Homo sapiens: one gene and its partner. The gene in region 1 interacts genetically with each later gene. Each region holds a gene or a part of one and is shown on either strand. Other genes may lie near its edges.

Region 1 (3,600 bases):
TCCGCCTGCCTCGGCCTCCTAAAGTGCTGGATTATAGCCCACCCAATCCTATTTTTTTAAATGCTGTCCATTAATGCATTCTGACTTCTTGCTTGAAAACCCCTGGTTTAGTGGATAAGCACCTGTAACTCCAGGAAGATTCAGGATTAAGGGCAGAAATAATGAAGTAAATTGAAGTATTAGCATTAGTATTTTCCATTACATTTTGGAATCGTCTATTTTGATGTATTCACGACGGTTAAAATAATTTAACATGCTAATGTATGGATTAACTTGGCAATTCCATTTTAAAATATTAAATGGAATAACGATTCTGACTCGTAAGTAGACATGTGTAACAGAATTCAACCACATCTGTAAACCATATTGAAATTATGAGAGTAAGATTTACCAACCACATTTAGGTTTGACATATTAGATTTGTGAGTGAACTATGTACTTGGATTTTGTCAAGTAACTCAATCGCTTAACAAAATAACAATTAAATGTATAAATGCAGTTTATAGCTATACATTATTTTTAAAAATCCCCTTCGAATGACTCTTTAAAACATACCAGGGGATACGCTACTTAAGTATAACTAGGTTTTGGATTTATAACGTTAATATTAATTATTAAAGCAAAACTCATTTCTAAAGAGTCGCCTGAGTGCCCAAAAGACGCCCTCAAGGACAGGGAAGCAGCTGCGATTCACTCAGCGATCACCAGCGCCCAGAATTCAGGGCCGCCCAAGCGGAGGAGCAACACGTGGCCCAGCAAAAGGAGCTGGGTCCCGTGCAGCACAGCAACAAGAAACTGGCCTAGGAAGACGCTGGAGCGTCTTTCTTTCGCACGTTACTGCCTGCTACAGTCATTTAAAAAAAAAAAACCAAAAACAAAAAAAAGAAATAAATTAATAGTACGAAGAAAACTGCGCGAGCTACATTCCCAGCAGGGTCTGCGCCAGAGCGCGCCAGGCACCGCTCCCGTTACGGGTGGGAGGAAAGGATGCACCGCCCACCCGGCGCCGGGGAGGCTCGTCCCCGAGTAGGGGACGGGAACGCCTGGGTCCCGGGGACGTGGGGCGCAGGGTCTGGGGCCCGAGGCCACGGACGAAGCGGGAAGCCGGCTAGGCAGCGGTCTCTGTCTGGGATGGACGCCGCGCCCCACGCGGACCTCCCGCCCCGACTTCACCCAGCTCTGCTGCCCGTAACTCATATGACAAGAACATCAGGAACCGGACTATTACCCCGAAAGGGCCTTCCCAAGTCGTTTCGCCGCCTGCAGTGCCCGACCGGGGGCCGCGCGTCCCCGGCAACCACGCCCGCCCGCGCAGCTGCAGAGGCCGGAAAAGGCCCGCTCGCCCGCGCTCGGCACCACCCAGCCCGCGCTCCGGGCGATACCACCCTGGGCGGCCCCTCCAAAGGCCGGAGATGGTGTCGTCCCCGGCCTCCGATTGGTCGGGGGGGCGGGGGCGTGGCCTCTGGAGCCTGGTTCCGCGCGCCGGAGCGCGCTAGCCGCATTGCGAGCCGAACCCGGGAGCTGGCGCCATGGTGAGGAGTGGTTGCGGGGCGCGGGCGACGCGACGGTGGGGGTTTCGGCCTGCGTTCGGGCCGCAGACAGGGCCTGGGCCTGGGCCTGGGCCTGCGCCTGCGCCTGCGCCTGCCCTGGGAACGGGTTCCGGCAGACGCTGAGGTTGCGTTGACGCTCGCGCCCCGGCTCCCGTTCCAGGTGCTGTTGCACGTGCTGTTTGAGCACGCGGTCGGCTACGCGCTGCTGGCGCTGAAGGAAGTGGAGGAGATCAGTCTGCTGCAGCCGCAGGTGGGTGAGATCCGTGGGCTCCTTTGGCGGCCCCGCAGACCCTCATCGCGCGGGTCCCAGCATGCACAGCGCGCTCCCACGTGGCCGGCCGAGCGGTTCGGGGCGGGGGGACGGGCCTGGAAAGCTCTAGATCCGGGGGTCTTTACCTTGACCCATGGGTAGAATCGCTCTAGCAATTAGAAATAAGCCTCCCGGACGCCGCCCCCGAACGATTAAAGCAGAAGCTGGGATGTGGGGCCCAGGTATCAGCATATTTTAAGAGCTTCCAAGGCTGAGAACCGCTGCTTGACTGCGCCGCAGAGGCAGGAGGGAGGGAAGGAAACCACTTAGCCTCTTTCTCCCCCCAGGTGGAGGAGTCTGTGCTCAACCTGGGCAAATTCCACAGCATCGTTCGTCTGGTGGCCTTTTGTCCCTTTGCCTCATCCCAGGTTGCCTTGGAAAATGCCAACGCCGTGTCTGAAGGTAAGTCGGCCACCGCCAAGTGTCACAGAGAGATGTGGTTCCTTTCGGTATCCTCTCGGGCAGCTTGTGATAGTATTTGCCGTCCTTGGCTGGCTCTGAGTCTGATAGGCGTGAGGCAGTATTTGAGCCATACAATGTGTAATTTGAAATAATTGTCTTCACAGAGCTCAAGGTCTGGGAACTGTGCTAGACCAAACTGTTTAAGCAGACGATGTGGAATGTGTGTTAACGTTTCCTTGTGGGCACTGTAGTGACAAACTATTTTTTATTTTTATTTTTTTTGAGATGGAGTCTGTCCCCCAGGCTGGAGTGCAGTGGCAAGATCTGGGCTCACTGCAACCTCTGCCTCCCTGGTTCAGGCGATTCTCCTGCCTCAGCCTCCCGAGTAACTGGGATTACAGGCCTGTGCCAGCCACCACACCCGGCTAATTTTGTATTTTTGGTAGAGACGGGGTTTCACCATGTTGGCCAGGCTAGTCTCCATCTCCTGACCTCGTGATCCGCCCGCCTCGACCTCCCAAGGTGCTGAGGTTGCAGGCGCGAGCGACGGTGCCCGGCCGACAAAGGGGGGTTTCTTAAAGGGGGTCGGCTTAACACCTACTTGTGCCTGAGGTTTTGCCTAAACACAATCAAGTGTCTGGTTCTCTGCTTTCTGTTCGATTGGAAAGGGCAGTTGGGTAAACACAGGCTGAGAAAAAAAGGTTTGGTTCCAGAAGGCAAATTCTACGAAATACTCGAGGGTGTGTTACAAGCTATTATTTATTGCCCACTTGTGCTATCAGACCTGAATGCAGTTGTTCCCATGGCTGGGCCAGGCTTTGCAGTGATGACTTGCGAATCAAATCTGTCAATCCCCTGAGTGCAATCACTGATGTCTCCATGTCTCTGAGCAATGCCTGATGGGGAGGGATCTAGGTATGCCATCCCAGCGTGCTCGGTGGGACCAGGGTAGTCAGCTGAGGGATGTTAGAGTTGATCGTCCTTCAGCCTGTTAGTGGGAACTGTGTTCTTTCCCCTGAGGGGTTGTTCATGAGGACCTCCGCCTGCTCTTGGAGACCCACCTGCCGTCCAAAAAGAAGAAAGTACTCTTGGGAGTTGGGGATCCCAAGATTGGTGCCGCAATACAGGAGGAGTTAGGGTACAACTGCCAGACTGGAGGAGTCATAGCTGAGATCCTGCGAGGTGAGACCATCATCTGTTATATTCCTGTTATCCTGGACATTTTGGGGGAGGAGGTTCTGGAAACTTGGTTGCTTGTTGTGATTTCTGGGAAGGCCTTCAGGCTGGGCTGGTGCCCGTGGGTGCGGGAGCTAGCTCAGAGCCCCTTGTTGCTCACCG
Region 2 (4,022 bases), on another chromosome or scaffold:
GCCTACTTCAACTGCTATGCCAGGTTTTGAAAGAGGAAGTAATTCTGTTGTCTCCAGGAGACCTAAGACCCAAACCATCTATGTATCTTTACTCTTTAGTCTGATACTTTTCAGAGACTATAGGAGTAGTGGACTTAGAAAAATAGAACATCCTGAGGACTCAAAAGTGGGTATCCAAACTAGCTGAAGCAGCTGTTCCACTTCTATAAACACGTATTTTTATTTAATTCTTGAAGGCAGACAGCCAAGTTGAGACAGCATTCTGCTTCTGCCTCTCATTTCTACTACTTTGGTGTACAGGAGCTCAGTTACCAAGTGGGCAACGTGGATTTAAGAGAAGAAATAAGCCCTTCCATCCCAATGTTCTGTTTTTCTCTAACTACTTTTGTCATTGTAGGTTTGGGAGAGGTGGTGGGACACAGTTAATACCCTTTGTCACTCAGGAGAGGGTGAGACATAATTGCACGTCTGTTGAGTAATAATAAATAGCCTACATTGGAATAGTGCCTTATAGTTTAGTAAATCCACTCCCACAAAGCATTGACATCTTCAAGTGCATGCTGTTTTTTTTTTCTTTTTTTCCCACTGTTTTTGAAGCATACCATATTAAAGAATTTTTTGTATCATGCCAAAGCCTTCTATCCATTCCCTACCATTCTTATTCCCTGACCTTTTTATGTCTCATTTTCCCTTTTGAGGGCTCAGCTTTGATCAAAAGCTAGTGGCAAATGTTACAAAGGTGGTAAAACCCTTAGGCACATACATAATGGCCTTTTGCCTTACCAGAGGCCTAGGCTTAAATATTTTCTCCTTACATTTAGCTAGAGATTTCTATATTTATTTCATCTTGAATTCTGATTCATCTCTTTCTTTTCATTTGTTCTCAGTCTCTATTGAAAAATGGACCAAGTGGTTCTTCTTATTTTCAAAACATTTAATTCTTTGGATGACATATGGGTTCTTCTTGGGAGCTGTTTTGACATATTTCTTTAATTAGTCAGCAGGGCTGCATTTGAATAGAGGAGGAATCTTTTCCTCCATTCAGCAAAGGAATGGCTGTCCTTTATGGAGACCATTCTATTATTGGCCCAGGAAAAAAGGGTATAGAATTAAAAATGTAGCCTAAATATTTCATGTGAAAGATTTGTCCACTTGTTGTAGGCCTGAAGGATGCTCATGGAGAAACAGGGCAAAAGAAATAATCAAAGAATAGTTCCTTCTCAAAGGCAGCATGAATCAAACTAAGATAAACGCCATGATAAAGAAAGAATAATGGAAAGTTTGGAATTAAAGCAGCATATAAATCATCAAGCAGGAAAAGGATTGTCTGTGGTTTGCAATAAGAGGACATCTTTGGAGTGCATAGAGGAGAATGACAGCAAAACAGGAAAGATGGGGGTTGGAGGAAGCCGAAGAATAAAAGTAGAATATCCATAGCTCTGTCCAACAACTTGTAGAGGACAGCCACAGGTTGGGTTTCTTGAAGAGGTTAGGAAAAGCACTGTAGAAGGGGAGGAGAGTGAGTGCCAAGCTATGGGGGCTGGAGGGCTGGAGAGAGCCCACCATATTTGGAGAACAGTGAAGGACCAGTTTGGAGTAGGGGCTAACTTAGGATGACTTACGGAAGAAATAGTTGAAAAGATATGTTGAGGTCAAATTATGGAAGAGATAATGGTTAGGAAGGGGTTGGAAGATATAAAGAAAAAGTGAAAGAGTTTGAGCAGAAGTGAATGAGACCAGAGGAAGGATGTCCTAGAAATTGTGCCTGAGTAAAACAGAAAGAAAAGGAATTGAAGGGTGAGAGTGAAATTTGGAAAAAAAAAAAAAAGGATTTGGCTTTTTCATTGTTGTTGTTATTAATTTTATAACAATTTAAAAACAATAACCTCTTAGAGAAAATGAAGAAAATGAGTTGGAAAGAACATATTTTCGGGGAAAGATGTATTATTGCAAGTACGGTAAGAGTTATGGTTAAGGCAGCTTGTTGAATAGGAAGAAAAATAGTGGATTAGAGAAGTATTTTAAGACTGGGGCAAAAACGACTCTAGTTAATTACTACAGTGAGCAGAAAATAGAAAATTATTTGACAGATAATTTAATTTAGAGTCTTAATTGTAAAGAATCTTTAAGAAAGTTTGTGTATTTATATTTATGTTACACATATGTTTATGTAGACAGTAAATCTAGCCAAGGTCATGATAATGAACCATAACATGAATTTTGGTGAATTAAAAAGAGATTCTAGGGATTGAAATGAATTTGAAGAGCAAACAGTGAAAGTTATTTTTAAGAATAATGAAAAGTTATCTAACTAATACAAATATATTCAAACTGAAAAGTCCAAATAACAGAGGAAATCTAGTGAGAATTATTTGTTGAGCCATGTAAATGTTTGAAATATTTTGGGGAATTAGGATAGAAGTCACATGCTGGGTTAGAACATATGATAGCAATAGAATCTCATTGAAAAATCAAGCCCTGTTTTGAAAATGTACTAAAGGAAAGGTGCTAAAGAAATGGGAAGTAAAACTACAGAGATAGCTAGTTAGCCAAAAGGTTTATTCTAAGCAGAATATTGCTTAGCCACATATACAAAAGGCAAGAGATTTTAGTTGGACCCAGAGGCTTGGGAGAGAAAATAACAAGGTAAGTACATTAATTTTATTAACCTGTAAGCGACTGTATTTTAGCTTTCTTAGGTGAATGTTTGTGCCATATGGAAAAAACATCTCTTTGCTTACTATTGGCACAATGAGCCCTGTTTGAAATACCTATTAAAATATACATGAGTGCCTACTGTGTGCACAACACAAATCTCATTAGCCTCTTTTTAAAATATGCTGAAACAAATCACTGCCTAACTTGTAACTCATGTATTGTTTTTCTGCTCCTTCAAAGTCATCAAAGCAGTATTCGAGTCTATATGTTAGGTGCTGTTTTGAGAAGGCAGAGACTGCATTCCATGAGAAGGAGACCAGGTTGGATGGTGGAAGTAAGGGTATTCAAAGTGCTGGTATAGAGTAATATAGTAGTAATAGGTCCATGATGTGGGGATAATGTTTGAGGAAAGCCAGGAATACAAATTACTGAGTATTAATCTCAAGAGTTTGGGATCAAAACCTCAGAATACTTTGGATAGGATTGAAAATAGAGTGTTGGCAGGGCGCGGTGGCTCACACCTGTAATCCCAGCACTTTGGGAGGCCGAGGCTGGCAGATCACCTGAGGTCAAGAGTTCGAGACCAGCCTGGCCAACATGGTGAAACCCCATCTCTACTAAAATACAAAAAAAAATAGCTAGGCATGGTAGCAAGCGCCTGTACTCCCAGCTACTTGGGAGGGTGGGGTGGAAAATCGCTTGAACCCTGGAGGCGGAGCTTGCAGTGAGCCGAGATCACGCCACTGCAGTGACAGAGCGAGACTCTGTCTCAGGGAAAAAAAAAAGAAAACAGAGTGTCTTCTGCTTTAGAACCAGCAGACCTTAGGCTGTAGATATCCAGCTGGTAGTATGGTTCTCAGATTTCTGGATCAATAGTGGTATCACAGGGCTGATGTCTCAGGTATCTTGTGGACCCAATGTTGCTTCCCTTGGGACCATTTTCTGATTCAGAGGTTCATCAAAATGGTCTTATATGTCCTTTACTAGGTTAAGTGATTCACTTAATTTAAATGGAAGGGTATAACATCACTTGCGTTATTCCATGTTTCTTAACACTGTGTGTGGACAGTTTAAGATGATTCATAATTGCTCCTTTATGTGCTATTGGGCATATGTTCATAAAAATAGATTGTAACACACATAAACTTTCTCATGTAATTAAAAACCATGTTAACATCTATTTTTTCTATTCAAGACTGCTAGACAAATATATAACATTTTAAGCTGATAATTTTGAAAATATTTATTAAGCAAGACTTTTAAACCATCTATTTGTGCTATATTAGATGTGTACCCCTGGTTGCAAATAATTTGATAAGCAGGAAAAGGCTTATTGAAGGGTAGATCGTAGAGTCAACTGAAGG

What was found.
Region 2: of NOP56 (region 1) and ATG10, changing one suppresses a phenotype caused by changing the other (phenotypic suppression), as found in Homo sapiens cells (one large-scale study listed by BioGRID).

The regions. Positions count from the first base shown.
Region 1 is NC_000020.11:2,651,132-2,654,731, forward strand, and holds the start of NOP56 (nucleolar protein 56), read left to right. Parts: upstream 1-1,500; 5' UTR 1,501-1,529; coding exon 1,530-1,532; intron 1,533-1,645; exon of another isoform or gene 1,646-1,710; coding exon 1,711-1,800; intron 1,801-2,147; coding exon 2,148-2,262; intron 2,263-3,080; exon of another isoform or gene 3,081-3,155; intron 3,156-3,282; coding exon 3,283-3,444; intron 3,445-3,600. UniProt on the Homo sapiens protein: Involved in the early to middle stages of 60S ribosomal subunit biogenesis. Required for the biogenesis of box C/D snoRNAs such U3, U8 and U14 snoRNAs. Part of the small subunit (SSU) processome, first precursor of the small eukaryotic ribosomal subunit.
Region 2 is NC_000005.10:82,167,507-82,171,528, forward strand, and holds part of ATG10 (ubiquitin-like-conjugating enzyme ATG10), read left to right. Parts: intron 1-4,022. UniProt on the Homo sapiens protein: E2-like enzyme involved in autophagy. Acts as an E2-like enzyme that catalyzes the conjugation of ATG12 to ATG5. ATG12 conjugation to ATG5 is required for autophagy. Likely serves as an ATG5-recognition molecule. Not involved in ATG12 conjugation to ATG3.